Linked DNA regions of Homo sapiens. The protein of the gene in region 1 purifies or fractionates together with the protein of each later gene. This does not show direct contact. Each region holds a gene or a part of one and is shown in the gene's direction. Other genes may lie near its edges.

Region 1 (3,909 bases):
TTTTATCGCCTGAGTCACCACTACTAATTGTTTAATTTCCCTGTCTCCTCTATTAACTGTAAGACGGTGACGCTGCATCATCGTGGTCAGTAGTAGGCGTTACTAAAAGGGGGTAGGGGCCGGGTGCGGTGGATCACGCTTGTAATCCCAGCACTTTGGGAGGTCGAGGCGGGGCGGATCACTTGAGGTTGGAGTTTGAGACCATCCTGGCCAACATGGTGAAACCCCATCTCTACTAAAAACATGAACATTAGCCGGGCGTGTGGCACACGCCTGTACTCCCAGCTACTCGGGAGGCTGATGCAGGAGAATCATTTGAACCCAGGAGGCGGAGGTTGCAGTGAGCCGAGACTGCGCCACTGCACTTCAGCTTGGGTGACAGAGCGCGACTCCATCTCAAAAACAAAAAAGGGGGGGGATAGGCTTTCCAGTGGATTTTACTCATTTTTATTTATTTATAGACTTTTCTGAGACAGGGTCTTGCTTTGTTCCCCAGCCTGGAGTGTAGTGGCACAGTCACGGCTCACTGCAGTCTCGATCTCCCGGTCTCAATGGATATCCACCCCCTGCCTCAGCCTCCCAACAAGCTGGGCCCACAGGTGCTAATTTTTTTTTTTTTTTTTTTTTTTCCGGAGAGAGAGTCTCGCTCCTTTGCCCAGGCTGGAGTGCAGTGGTGCGATCTCGGCTCACTGCAACCTCTGCCTCCCGGGTTCAAGCCATTCTCATGCCTCAGCCTCCTGAGTAGCTGGGATTACAGGCACCCGCCACCACGCCCAGGTAATCTTTTTATTTTTAGTAGAGACGGAGTTTCACCATGTTGGTCAGGCTGGTCTCGAACTCCTGACCTCAGGTGATCCACCCGCCTCGGCCTCCCAAAGTGCTGGGATTACAGGCGTGAGCCACCGCGCCCGGCCTCGGTGGCTGAGTTTTAATTTTTTTTTGTACATACGGGTGTCTCGCTATGTTGCACAGGCTGGTCTCTGAACTCCGGGCTCAAGCGAGCCTCCCGCCTGGGCCTCCCAAAGTGGTGGGATTAGAAGCGGGAGCCACCGCACCAGCGAGGGATTTACTCTGCTGTGTTGCGCATCGCGCGCATTGTTCGCAAGACCTAAGGTCTCCCTTTCTTGTAATATAAAGGATATACACATATTCCTCCGAAATTACACGTTTATGTAATTTACATTTCAGGTCTTTAAAGGAAATCTAAAGAGAAAAATTACTTCGTCACCGTAGTACATCCGCTGAGACACCTGAGGCGTGGAAAAAAGAAGAAAAAAGAGGGAACGGAAATGGCCAGCGGGTAAGGGCTGACCCCACCCGCAGCAGAGCTCATCCCGGAGCCGCCCCACCCGCAGGAAGCCCCGGGCGGGGCCGAGGTCAAGGTTCCGCGGCAAACTCTCCCCGTCCACCCTGACGGGGACTCGGGATTGGTCGGGCCCCAGCTGCCCGGACGTGACGCCAGCGCCCGGCGTGGGCGGTGCACCGCGGCCGCTCTTCCCATGCCCCGCCCCCTGGGGGGCACCAAAACCAGAAAGCAGCGGCCGGGGCGGGGCCTGCGGCCGGCCGACTCAGCGCGGGGGCGGGGCCTACCTCGCGGCAACAGCTGGTTGGTAGCTGCGGCTGCGGGCCCGCACTTCCGCTGGTGGCCTAGAGCGGGGCCCGGTATGGAGGTGGGCTAGAGGCCGACGCCAGCCAGAGAGCGGTGAGGGTAGCGGCGGGCTGGAGGCCGTAGGTCGGGCGGGCGTGAGCGCAGGCGCGGCTTGTGCTTGCAGGGCCGCTTCGGGGAACCATCGCGGCGCCTAGGTCCCGGTGGGCGGATGGGGGAAGAGTCGGCGCGGGCTCGGCCGCTTCCCTCGGTGCGGGGGCGGGAGCACCCCTCGACGGCTGGCGGCCGCCTGTTGCCTTCCTGCGCGCTGGACCCGGCCGCTGCGACCCCCTGTCCTTCCGTTGTCTACACTGCGGTCTCGTGTGAGCTGTTTTTGGTGTGGATACTGCGTAGTTTCCTTGGGGCTGAGCGGGAGGTCTCGGGGTGGAAAGTGTCGGTTCCCTCCACACGCTCGTCTGCCTCTCGCCTGGAGTCCCTCCCTTTGTTTTTTTTTCTTTTTTCTTTTTTTTTTTTTTTTGAGACGGGGTCTCGCTCTGTCACCCAGGCTGAAGTGCAGTGGAACAGTCACGGCTCGCAGCAACCTCGTCTTCCTGGGCTCCAGCGATCCTTCCGCCTCATCCCCCCGAGTAACTGGGACCATAGGCGCGCGTCACCACGCCCGGCTAATTAAAAACAAAATGTGTTGCAGAGACAGGGCCTGGCTGTGTTTCCCAGGCTGAGCTCAGCTGCTCCAGGGATCCTCCGAGCCGCCGCGCCCGGCCGGTCCCTTCGTTTGGAGGAGAGTCTGTTTCTCCCACTTGGAGGGGCTGGAGCTTTTGCTGCTGGCCACAGGACTTTGTCCGTCCTCCCCAACTTCTGGGGATCTAAGGATGTGCCCAGCAATTTGCACGACCCAAGTGAAACGGGGGTGACTGCCTTGAGGGAAAAGAGCTCCACAAGGAGAAGGCCGAGTGTGGTATTTGATAAGTGACACAGCTGAGGATCCTAGGATTGATGTTACCTGCGCGGGCTAATAACTTGGGGGATTTTTGGCTCGGTGCCTAGCTGTCCCCGTGAGTGGGGACAGCCCCTTGTGGAACTGGGAGTCAGAATTGCAGTTCTGCTGTTTCCTGGAAGTCCACAGCCAAGTTGTCTAACCTATCTGGGCTTCCTCATCAGCCAGCAGTATCTGTCTGTAATAGGATCGATACCAGGCTCAGATGGGATATAGAGTATAAATGCCACTTACCAATTTCGTTTTTTGTTTTTTAATTTCAGAAATGTTCTTTTGGGGCCAGAGTCTGGGCATATATGAATGCAAATCCGTGTTTGTTCACAACTAAGCCCAGCTGAGACGATCACTTTTCTGTAGGCCATTTGTCCAGGTAATAATTTTTTTTTTTAGCAGGAGTTCAGAGCACCAAGGTAAGTGCAATGATGGAAACATGTGCAGAGTCCTAAAGGGACAGAGAAGAAGGTCATCAGAGATAGACTGGAAGAGAGGACGGGTCGGACAGGCCCCCCCCCCAGACGTGATGACACTCAGGAAGAGCTTGCACACTGGTTGTTCTCAAATCCAGCTTTCTCTTCGAATCTTAGTGGAGTTCTTTAAAAGGGAAACAATTTTATCCATAGGATCTTTTCTACTTTTTTTTTTAAGTTCCTGAGGTAAGTCTGATGTGTATTCACAGTTAAGTACCGGGCAGAGGTAGGAGGGTGGGTTTCCAAGGCCAGTGGAAGAGCTTCCATAAAGGCAGGGAATACCAGTCACCATGAATGGTTTTAGGAAGAGCAAGTCAAGGGAGGTAAGTGTGGAGGAAAGAGATGATGTGGAAGCTGGATCATCGCGGGCCTTGTGTGTGTTGAGCTCAGCAATTTGAATTTTATCCCAACATTGGAGGAGGAGTCATTTGTGCTTTCGAAGTCCAGTTTGGGGCTTTGGCCTCTGGCAGCATTTTGGAGGAGGAATTGATGGCGATCAAAGAAGAAATAGATCATTTAGGCTTCTTCAGTAATCCAGGCAAATGATGAAAATGTACTGAACTAAGGCAGTGGCGGTTGCACTGAGAAGAAAGTAGAGATGTAATTAAGGGGTAGGCTCTGGAGCTCAGAGATTGCGGCTGAGGGAGAAGGAGCGTATAGGATAATTCCTAGGTTACTGGTTTGAAAATTGAATGTATGGTAATGTCATCAACAAGGGAATATAGAACAAATAACAGATTTAAGGGAAGGACTTCGTTGGGTTCTGGTCATGTTTACTTTGAGGTGCCTGTCAGATATGTGAGTAGAGATACACTGTATGCAGTTGGATATTGAATATATCT
Region 2 (3,909 bases), on another chromosome or scaffold:
AGAGGGCGAGGACACAGGATTCCAGGCGGCGATTATGCCTGCATTGAGTCTTAAGGGTTGGTGGGGGCCCTAGAATATCTTAATGAGAAAGGATAGAATGCTTAGAAACCTACAGAAGTCAATCAGAACCAGTGTCGTCCATAATTCTAGTAATAAGCTGGGTGCAGTGGTGCACACCTGTAGTCTCAGCTGCTTGGGAAGCTGAGGTGAGAGGATCACCTAAAGCCAGGAGTTCAAGAACAGCCTGGGCAACACATTGAGACCCCCATCTCTTTTCTTTAATTTTGTCTTTTTTTTTTTGAGACGGAGTCTCGCTTTATCACCCAGGCTGGAGTGCAGTGGGGCGATCTCGGCTCACTGCAAGCTCCGTCTCCTGGGTTCATGCCATTCTCCTGCCTCAGCCTCCCGAGTAGCTGGGACTACAGGTGCCCGCCACCACACCTGGCTAATTTTTTTTTTTGTGTGTGTGTTTTTAGTAAAGACGGGGTTTCACCATGTTAGCCAGGATGGTCTCGATCTCCTGACCTCATGATCCGCCCACCTCGGCCTCCCAAAGTGTTGGGACTACAGGCGTGAGCCACTGTGCCTGGCCGAGACCCCCATCTCTTAAAAAAAATTCTAGTAATAAAATCAGAAAGCGATTGTCAGTGGTCAGAAATGAGACATGACTGTTAAGTAATCAGACTGATTTCCTCAGTGGCTGAAACATGCTGAGAAGGTAACTTCAAGAGGCTTTCCAAATACACACTGCTCAGCGGGGGTGCTTTTGGAAAAGTGTAGACTTATAAGATGACTATTTGGCAAGATCACAAATGCTTTAGTGAGCATTTTTTAAAAATTGAGGTAAGAGCCGGGCGTGGTGGCTCATGCCTGTAATCCCAGCGCTTTGGGAGGCCAAGGCAGGTGGATCGTGACGTCAGGAGTTCGAGACCAGCTTGGCCAACATGGTGAAACTCTGTCTCTACTAAAAATACAAATATTAGCCAGGCATGGTGGCAGGCGCCTGTAATCCCAGCTACTCGGGAAGCTGAGGCAGGAGAATCGCTTGAACCTGGGAGGTGGAGGTTGCAGTGAGACAAGACTGTGCCACTGCACTCTAGCCTGGGTGACAGAGTGAGACTCCATCTAAAAAAAAATAATAGTAATAATAATTTGAGATAAGAATCACATAACAAAATTCATCAGTTTGCAGTGTACAATTCAGTGGTATAATATTTAGTGCATAATGTCATAAAATTATCACCTCCATCTAATCCCAAAACATTTTCACCACCCATACCCATACCAAATGCTGTACCCACTAAGCAGTCTGTCCCCATTCCCCACTCCTCCCAGTACCTGGAAACCACTAATTTGCTTCCTGTCTCTATGCATGTACCTATCTAGACATCTCATGTAACTGGAATCATAGACTTGGTGGCCTTTTGTGACTGGCTTTCACTTGGCATAATGTTTCGGAGGTTCATCCACATTGTAGCATGTATCAGTACTTCATTCCTTTTTATGGCCAAACAGTATTCCATTGCATGGATTAACTACATCTTTTATCCGCTGATGGACATTTGGGTTGTCTGCACCAGGCATAACTTTTTTTTTTTTTTTTTTGAGACACTCTTGCTCTGTCACCCAGGCTGGAGTACAGTGGCACCAGCTCAGCTCACTGCAACCTCCGCCTCCCAGGTTCAAGCAATTTTCCTGCCTCAGCCTCCCCAGTAGCTGGGACTATAGGTGTGCACCACCACACCCAGCTAATTTTTGTATTTTTGGTAGAGATGGGTTTTCACCATGTTGGCCAGGCTGGTCTCGTAACTCCTGACCTCAGGTGATCCCCCTGGTTCAGCCTCCCAAAGTATTGGGATTACAGGCGTGAGCCACCGCGCCCGGCCGGCATGACTTTTTAAAAAGTGATGTTGGCTGGGTGCGGTGGCTCACATCTGTAATCCCAGCACTTTGGGAGGCTGAGGCAGGAGGAGGCCAGGAGCTCAAGACCCAGCCATGGCAAGATAGTGAGATCTGTCTCTACAAAAAATTTTAAAATTTCACCAGGTATGGTGGTGCTCACCTATAGTCCTGGCTACTTGGGAGGCTGAAGCAGGAGGATCTCTTGAGCCCAGGAGATTGGGGCTACAGTGAGCCGTGATTGCGCCACTACATTCCAGACTGGGTGAAAGAACAAGACCCCATCTCAAAGAAAAAAAAATCACTTTTTTTTTAATACCCCAGCTCAGTAGCCCTGAAAGCAAGCTGTCCCTGTCTTCAGTGGCACACCCTTGCATGCAGGAGGCTGCCCGGAGGTCTGTCTGCATGGGCACTCTGGCCCCTGTGGTAACTGGCTCAGATCAGCAGGCCTGGCCCCTTTAAGTTCCTCACCCCACTTCTTTTGGTTCCCCTTCAACCCACTGTGCTCCATCTTTCTCCACACCTAGGAGATGACAAGTATGGGCGGAAGATCATTGTGTTTAGTGCCTGTCGAATGCCCCCCAGCCACCAGCTCGACCACAGCAAGCTCCTGGGGTGAGTACCTGCTGGGAAGTGTGTTGGGGCTTTGCCCAGATCCCCATTGTAGCCTAATGCCACGTTCTTTACTGTCCCTCCCTGCCTGTGGGTGCTAGGCCACCTGCCTTAATGCCTTCCCTCTTCTCATGAAGGAGCTGGTTTATATTTAGGGGAGAGCACTGGACGAGGAGTCAGACCTAGTTTCTAGTTATTGAAGCTGGGTGACCTTGGTAAGCATCTTTAAGCCTCGCTTTCCTCACCTTTCAAAAGGGATAATAATATAGGCCTCTTTCCTTGTAGGAGTGACAAACAGCACATGAAAAGGAAGGACTTTTGTCCAGATGTGATGATTGACTGTTATAATCCTATGGTGTTTCTGAGATGGTTGCAGTTGTTTATCGTTTATAGGACTCATTAGTGTTGTCTTATTTTGTGCCTTTGGTGTCAGTGGTTTCTATACCGATGTGGGTTCTGGGGCCAAACATATGTAATAGCTCTGGCCGGTCCAGACATGTCCTGATTCATGTCTGAAGGCTGGTTGAATGCCAAGGCTTGAAAGACTCATTTATGGTTGAGCCAGCTCTGGGCCCACAGGCGAGCAAACTCACTTCCTGCTGCTGTCCTCGGGGTGTGTAGTAGAGTGAGACCATCTTGCCCTTCTTTCTGTTTTCTCGGCAAATTTTAGAAAGATGCAGTTCTTTCCTGACCAGTTTGAAGCACTCTCTGAAATGTAAAATCCTGGCACTGTCCCAAGCAGCTCTTTGAGACCCTGAATGGTTGCGTGCGAGCAGGAGGAGGTGTGGGCTTAGGGACAGACCCAGAGGGCAGCCGCAGAAGGAGAAGGGCCTGAATTTGGAGTCTCAGCCAGTCCTGGCAAGCCAGGGCCACAGGCTGAGTCTTCCAGCGTCATCTAGGAATTCTATCTCTCTGGCCTTCTGAACCCTCTTCCCACTGCTCTTCAGACAAGGCAGGCAGAGCCTTGTCCAAGCCCGCCGCACGGCCCAGCCAGAATGGGCAAGAGCTTGGCCTGGGGCTGGTGGAGGCACATGGCCTTTTCTCTAGTTCTTTCTATGTCTGATGTACCAGGTGACAGCCTCCTGCCCAGATAATAAGTGAAGTGGGAGGAAGTCAGTGGATGTGGGTGGAAAGCACCTGGTTTTCAGGAGACAGCTTGCCAGGGAAGGCCACACCCACCCCAGGGCGTCCTTGGCTTCAGGAAGTCCTCAACATCAGCTGCTGCTTGTCCTCCATCACTTCCGTCCTAGTCACAGTCCCTGCTGAGGGCAGTGGGGTGCTTCCATCATGGAGCACTTTGTCCCATTTTCAGTCAGATTATCTCAGATGTGGCTCTTCCCAGCTGTCCACCCAGATCCAGGAGGTTGAAATAGAAAGTGCCTGAGCGCCACTGCACTC

Evidence for each region.
Region 2: the proteins of SETX (region 1) and ARHGAP1 purify together in Homo sapiens (affinity purification with mass spectrometry; 2 studies listed by BioGRID and IntAct, with this or other methods). This does not show direct contact.

The regions. Positions count from the first base shown.
Region 1 is NC_000009.12:132,352,710-132,356,618, reverse strand, and holds the start of SETX (probable helicase senataxin), read left to right. Parts: upstream 1-1,632; 5' UTR 1,633-1,702; exon of another isoform or gene 1,703-1,982; intron 1,983-2,863; 5' UTR 2,864-2,970; intron 2,971-3,909. UniProt on the Homo sapiens protein: Probable RNA/DNA helicase involved in diverse aspects of RNA metabolism and genomic integrity.
Region 2 is NC_000011.10:46,686,778-46,690,686, reverse strand, and holds part of ARHGAP1 (rho GTPase-activating protein 1), read left to right. Parts: intron 1-2,426; coding exon 2,427-2,514; intron 2,515-3,909. UniProt on the Homo sapiens protein: GTPase activator for the Rho, Rac and Cdc42 proteins, converting them to the putatively inactive GDP-bound state. Cdc42 seems to be the preferred substrate.